2 linked regions of the Homo sapiens genome follow. The protein of the gene in region 1 interacts with the protein of each later gene in a pairwise test. Each region holds a gene or a part of one and is shown in the gene's direction. Other genes may lie near its edges.

Region 1 (3,500 bases):
GCACTCTAGCCTGGGCGACAGAGTGAGACTCCATCTCAAAAAAAAAAAAAAAAAAATTCACAAGTTACACAAAGTAAACAAAAGGGTATTCCAAAAAAGTATGGAAAAGTATACAGGCTAAAAAAAGGTTTACAGAAGGGATCCCTCTGTTTCCATCTCCCAGCCAGCTCTTTTCTACCTCAGTGGTAACTAATGTTGTTAGTATCTTGTTTATTTTCCTAGACATATTTAATATTTGCAAATAAGACATAGGTAGAGTTGTAGCCTTTACAAACCCCTCCCCTCTCCTATTCTTTTTCTTTCCAGAGGTAACTAGTATGCTGAAGTTGAAGTTGGGGTTTATCATTCTGATTCTTTTATTACCTATGTATATGTCTATAAACGTCTATATATTATCATATTTTTAAATATGAGGTGGTACCATGCTGGTCTTATTATTTTAACTTGCTTTTGTTTTGAGACAGAGTCTCACTGTTTCGCCCAGGCTGGAGTGCAATGGCGCGATCTCAGCTCACTGCAACCTCCACCTCCTGGGTTCAAGCGAGTCTCCTGCCTCAGCTTTCTGAGTAGCCGGGACTGCAGGCTTGCACCACCACGCCTGGCTAAGTTTTGTATTTTTTAGCAGACACAGGGTTTCACCATATTGGCCAGGCTGGTCTCGAACTCCTGACCTTGTCATCTGCCTGCCTCGGCCTCCCAAAGTGCTGGGATTACAGGTGTGAGCCACTGCACTTGGCTGCTTTTTTTTTTTTTAATACAACCTTTAAAAATGTTTTGTGTTTTTGGTTTGTTTTGTTTTTTTGAGACGAAGTTTCACTCGTTGCCCAGGCTGGAGTGCAATGGCGTGATCTCAGCTCACTGCAACCTCCGCCTCCCGGGTTCAAGTGATTCTCCTGCCTCAGCCTCCCGAGTAGCTGGGACCACAGGCGCCCGCCACCATGCCCAGCTATTTTTTTTTTTTTTTTGTATTATTAGTAGAGACGGGGTTTCACCATGTTGGCCAGGCTGGTCTCGAACTCCTGACCTCAGGTGATCCACCCACCTCGGCCTCCCAAAGTGCTGGGATTATAGGCGTGAGCCACCGTGCCCGGCCTAAAACTGACAAACTTTTAAAATATTTGTTTCATTTAAAAATGACAATTTATTACAAGTTGGTGGAGCGTAGTGGCGCATGCCTATAATCTCAGCATTTTGGGAGGCTGAGGCAGGTGGATCACCTGAGGTCAGGAGTTTGAGACCAGCCTGGCCAACATGGCGAAACCCCATCTCTACTAAAAATACAAAACTTAGCCAGGTGTGGTGGTGGGTGCCTGTCATCCCAGCTTCTCAGGAGGCTGAGGCAAGAGAATTGCTTGAACCCTGGAGGTGGAGGTTGCAGTGAGCCGAGATTGTGCCTTTGCACTCCAACCTGGGCAGCAAAACGAGACTCCATCTCAAAAAAAAAAAATTATTACAAGTTAACATAAATAACATTATTTTGAAAAATAACTTTATTTTCCAAAACAAACAAAACTGTAGAGGAAAGTATGGACTTGTTTTACATTTTTGTAGTTCTCTTTGATGTCTAGCTTACTACAAGACAGCTGGTTCTCAGATCTGCATTCAGTTTGCAATGTCACATGTCATGTAGACTTTGGAAAACTCCACTGTATCCTCATGAGAGAATAAGAGTGAAAAAGACAAATTCATGTCTTAGAATTATGAAAACAGTTTTAATGCTTGCAGGGGTCCCAGGACCACACTTTGAGAACTGTTGTATTAGAGGAGTATTATAAGCATTAGAATAAATGTGTCAGGCACATAGTAGGTGCTCAATAAATGATGGTTGTTATCACTGTGGGTAGTTCAGGAAAAGAGATTTCGTCCTTAGAGTGTACCAGGAAGAATAAAGCGAGCCCAGAACAAGGTGGGGTGAGGTGCTAGGCAAGTATCAGAACAAGAAATCTGAAACAGGCACAGAGGCTGAAACCATGGTGCATGAACCCTGGCCTGTGAGCTCTGTTATCTGAACAGGATCTGGTGAGGTGAAGGAAACAGCTCAGAGTAGGAGAATCCTTGGTTAGCCCCGGTCCCCATGACCCACTTTCAATGAACAGGAAAAGCAGCTCAATATGAAACCCTACGGTGGGGAGGGGCTGAGGTAGGACCACCTGGGAACTCAGGAAAGAGAGCTGCTGAGCTCTTAGACCACAAGAAAGGCTGAGTAGGGAAAACTGAGTCTGGGACTCCCTCAGCCAGAGCTCTGTGCTAGGTGCTGGAGGGGAGGAGGTTCCGGTGTTGCCTTTGGGAAGCACACCATCCCATGGGGTATGGACCTGAGATATCCTGGGGAGCACAGTGAGGAGCATGGTAGGGCAAGGGGGACCAGAAGTAAACTGAGGCCTGTCCATCTGAAGTAGCCAGTGTGTAGAGGTAGGGTTTGGAGCAGGAGGGGAAAACCTAGAGAGGGCATATTCTGCTGGAGGTGTGTTCTGCTAGGGGCCGCCACTGTGGTGTGCCTGGATGGACAGAGAATGCCAGGTAGGGGACCTGGGGAGTGAGGGAAAGGTTCTGGGGAGTTAGGATTAGTCCAAGGAGGCTGGGGAAAGGGAAGATCGGGGTTCAAGTAGAGAGCCAGGTTTGACAGCCCACTCCCATTAAGCCAGTAGTTAGTTATTGAGCACCTACTAGTGTCGGGGCTGGGGGTGCACAGGCAAATCTGACATTGCCTCTGCCCCTTGAGGTACAGGAACACAAATATTTGGCTACACAATGGGAAAACTGTGTGTAAAGTGCGGTGGGTTACATAGGAGATGATTAGAGACCAAATATTGAAAGCCACCGGGGGGATGGGAAGTTTCCAATTATCTGAGAGGTTCAGTTATCCAGTCACTAGCATCAGCTAGCTCCCACCCTATGGAGCAAGGAAGGAGCTATCCATTGTGGGGCAAAGAACTGAACTGAGGACCTCTAAGGTCTTAGATCTCTCTCCCTTTTCTGGGGAAGGGGAGGCTATTAAGTGAGAGGAGAGAATGGGCCTAGCCCTTGTCCCTGATTTGTTTCAGTCCTTAACCCAAAACCTTTCCCTCCTCCCAGTTTGGCAACAATCCCTTCTCTTCCCTGGCCGGGAACTCCGACAGCTCATCCTCCCAGCCTCTGCGGACTGAGAATCGAGAGCCCCTCCCTAACCCCTGGAGCCCCTCGCCCCCCACCTCCCAGGCCCCCGGGTCCGGTGGGGAGGGCACCGGAGGATCGGGGACCAGCCAGGTGCACCCGACAGTCTCGAACCCCTTTGGGATCAATGCGGCTAGCCTGGGGTCAGGTATGTCCTAGGATGGAAGGAGCTTAGTGGGGTCACCAGGGCAGCCCCTCTGTCCCAGGACTGAATGGGGTTCATACTGCTCCAGGATTTTGAAGACAGAGGTGAGACTATCGAGGCCACAGAGGGGGCTCTGCCGTCTGGGATAGTGGCCGGGTGAGGGCTGGTTCTGGCCATGTCCTGATATCCCTAGGAGTGACCT
Region 2 (3,727 bases), on another chromosome or scaffold:
GTAAATTTTCCATTGTAACCCTGGACACATACACCGCACACACATACACACACACACACACACACACACACACACACAGCACATACCTGTGAATGAAAATTTTTCATGAAATGATTATTATTATACTTATTTTTCGTCAGCTGCTCTGCAATAAAGTCTGTTTTGTTTTGTTGTTTGTGCAAAAGCTGTTTTGTTCCAATTCATTGATTTCACATGCCATTGGTAAATAGAAACCCACAGTTTAAAAAAACGAACCAAACAAAACCTGGTTTAGGGAACTGTTGTTTCATGGAGCAAAAGTTTCTAAAAGGTGTATTTGGTTTAACTCGCTGAGTGTTTTTATAAAAAGCTTTTCTCTATGACTGACCTCAGCTTAAAGATCTATACCACAACTTACTAATAATGAGTTCCATGTAAAACTAAGCAGAATTCACAACTCTTTTGGGGTTCAGGTTATTCTATCATGAGACTTCTCCTTAAAGCTTCTAACCCTCTTCAGCCATTGCTTTAAGGCAGCCTGACTAGATTAAGTAAACAGAACTTGAACACAATGACTTAACTATACTTTATAAATTCATGATTGTTAAGCCACAAAATCAACCTTTCCAAATAAAACTGAGTGTAAGTCAAACTGCCAAGCGAAAAGAGCAGCTATGGAGCTCTCAACTCTCCCTTTTGTCATAGTTTATCTCTGTACAATGCCAGATAAAGCCCAGATGAGGAATAAAGTGATGTGACTATTGCTTTATACTTATTAAATCTCATCCGTTATTGTGGGACCATGCTGCCATCCTCCTCACCTGAGGTGCCCGATAATGATCACCCTAGCGGGGGGTTATAAGGCACCTTTGTTCGAAAGAAGTTTATAGAATTGGACTCAGAAAGGTACAGCTTGCCCTCCAGGGAAGCAAAGGAGAAAATTATATTTAATGCATATTAAACAAACAATTGTTGGAGATTATAAGCTACATCGATTCCAAGATCCCAAAATACTTGAGTCAGCTTACTCCAAAATGTTACCAGCCAGCCACTTTAAACATTAATGAGGTAGCTGGTTTCTAAAATCTGGAAGGAGGAGGAGGTTTTGTTTAAGCCAACTATTTCACAGAAGAGGAAATACAGTTCGACCTCAGGAAATTTAAATGAGACTGCTGAATAACTGGGAAAGAACATCTCCTGTGGATGACAGGGCAAAGAAGAATTAAGCTGATTTTAGGCCAAATAACAAATGTGACAGCTGTGCTTTTTTGTGTATGTATTGGTGTGTGATAGTGTATAATTTCTAGAAAAGCAGTTCTCATGCATTTGGGTCTTGAAAATTTCCACTTTTAAAAATTATTGAGAACTCCAAAGAACTCTTGCTTCTGTAGGCTGTATCTATCAATTTTTACCATTTTAAAAATTGAAACTAAGAAATTAAAAAAATATTGATTGAATCATTAAAAAAACTGTATTAACATAAAATATTTTTATTTAAAACATTGTTTTCAAAAAAGTTATTGAGAAGAGTATTATTGTTTTATATTACTGCAAATCTATTTAATACTTGGCTTAATAAATGGCACCTAGATTGTCATCTTTTCTCCATATACTCTATTGTGTTATGTTGTTTTGGTTGAAGTATGTGAAGCGAAGTTAGTTCACACAAATAAGTAATTGGAAAAGAGAGAACCTCATAGTCCCCTTAAAAGGATCTCAGGGGACTCCCAGGGATCCTTGGGGCACACTTTGAGAGCCACTGTCCTGAAAAGTAGTTTGGAAGACTATGTTAAGAATGGCTGTCCAGGAGTGGTGAGATTATTCACGATTCTTTTTTTCTTTTCTTTTCATTAGTATTTATTTTCTACAAGAAGATGGATTGCTTGTGCAAACTAAAAATGAGAAAGAAAGAACATACTCATGTTGAGGGCAGATTATGGAGGCCCTGGAAAAACCCAGGCAGAGGAGTTTACACTTGGGAGACCAAGGAGCCACTGTCATTTCTTAAATGGGAAAATGATAAGAGCTGTGTTTGGGAGTAAGTGAATTCGAATTGAAAGAGAGAAAGAGAGATGCTACTTCAGAGAAGTGGTGTGGTGAGTCAGACCTCAGGTGTTGGCAGAAATGGAGAGAAAGGACAAACTCCAAAGACTTTGAGGGCAGAATGACCTGAGACCTGGATATAGGAAATACAGGAGAGGGCAGAGTCAAAGACAACAGTTTTAAAATTAAAACATTTGAAGAATGTTTTTTCCCTTCTATCCAACTTTGGGGCCTGGTTCTGTTGCTCAGGCTGGAGTGCAGTGGCGCAGCCTTGACCTCCTGGGCTCGAGCCATTCACCCACTTGAGTAGCTGGGACTGTAGGTGTAGATTGCCTCTTTCTATCCAACTTCAACTTTTTCTGAATGTTACTCCGATTAAGCTAATTGAAGTCTTGTCGTGTTTTCCAGAGTTGGCCACCCTGTTCAAGGGCTTAGGAGAAAGTCAACACACTTCGCAACTTGAATTGGTCCCAGCTGCTCCCAGAAGAACGGGCGGGTTGGTCCCTATGCCACCCCTGGAGAGCTACTCGCCGCCCACTTTGCCGTGAAGGGCTGTGCGGTTCCCGTGCGCGCCGGAGCCTGCTGTGGCCTCTTATGCACTCCACCACCCCCATCAGCTCCCTCTTCTCCTTCACCAGCCCCGCAGTGAAGAGACTGCTAGGCTGGAAGCAAGGAGATGAAGAGGAAAAGTGGGCAGAGAAGGCAGTGGACTCTCTAGTGAAGAAGTTAAAGAAGAAGAAGGGAGCCATGGACGAGCTGGAGAGGGCTCTCAGCTGCCCGGGGCAGCCCAGCAAATGCGTCACGATTCCCCGCTCCCTGGACGGGCGGCTGCAGGTGTCCCACCGCAAGGGCCTGCCCCATGTGATTTACTGTCGCGTGTGGCGCTGGCCGGATCTGCAGTCCCACCACGAGCTGAAGCCGCTGGAGTGCTGTGAGTTCCCATTTGGCTCCAAGCAGAAAGAAGTGTGCATTAACCCTTACCACTACCGCCGGGTGGAGACTCCAGGTGGGTCGTCTTTACGACGTCAAGGTTTATTTTCAGAGTGAAGGTCGTGTGCCCCATTGATGGAGAATGATGGGGCACCAGCAGACAGGGACCTCTCCCAAAAGAGAGAGAGAGAAGAGAGGAGAGGGAGGTTCAGTTTTGAGGGACTCGTCCAAAATTTTGTTTCCCGGAATGAGGCAGCTGTCCAATCAAAGAAAGTTCCCATGAAAACGATATTCCTGCCTGGAATGCCACAGGAACACTCAATCCAAAGAGAATCGCAGTAAAACCCTGTTATAGCCAGTGTGAAGGAATGAAGATAAACTAGTCAGGAAAATCTAGAAAGAAGATATTTTCATTTGATTTCATTATGCTGGTAAGCTTTGTGTGATTTTGAAAATGAGGCAGATGGCTAATCGGAGAAAACTGCCATAAAAGTTTTATTTTGAGGTATCTGGGACAAGTCAACATAATCTTTTACCAGTTCTTGGGGTCCTGAAAGGTTTTAAAATGGCCTTGATAATGATGAGCTGTAAAAATTAAACATCCTCCTCCCCCCGCCCCAAACAACTGAACTGAACTGTACTAAACTGAACTAAGGCAGGGTTTTTGGCTGCTACTTTGTTCAAGTTCAGGTAAGTAGAAGATATCTCATGTCTAGGTCTGAAAACAGCCAATGAAAGAGTTGCTGGAAATCATTCCAGGCAGTTATTTTTAAAA

Evidence for each region. Proteins that work in one complex are often made in the same cells at the same time.
Region 2: the proteins of UBQLN4 (region 1) and SMAD9 interact in a two-hybrid assay, tested with the Homo sapiens proteins (one large-scale study listed by BioGRID and IntAct).

The regions. Positions count from the first base shown.
Region 1 is NC_000001.11:156,043,799-156,047,298, reverse strand, and holds part of UBQLN4 (ubiquilin-4), read left to right. Parts: intron 1-3,075; coding exon 3,076-3,301; intron 3,302-3,500. UniProt on the Homo sapiens protein: Regulator of protein degradation that mediates the proteasomal targeting of misfolded, mislocalized or accumulated proteins.
Region 2 is NC_000013.11:36,878,579-36,882,305, reverse strand, and holds part of SMAD9 (mothers against decapentaplegic homolog 9), read left to right. Parts: intron 1-1,528; exon of another isoform or gene 1,529-2,017; intron 2,018-2,430; 5' UTR 2,431-2,616; coding exon 2,617-3,028; intron 3,029-3,727. UniProt on the Homo sapiens protein: Transcriptional modulator activated by BMP (bone morphogenetic proteins) type 1 receptor kinase. SMAD9 is a receptor-regulated SMAD (R-SMAD).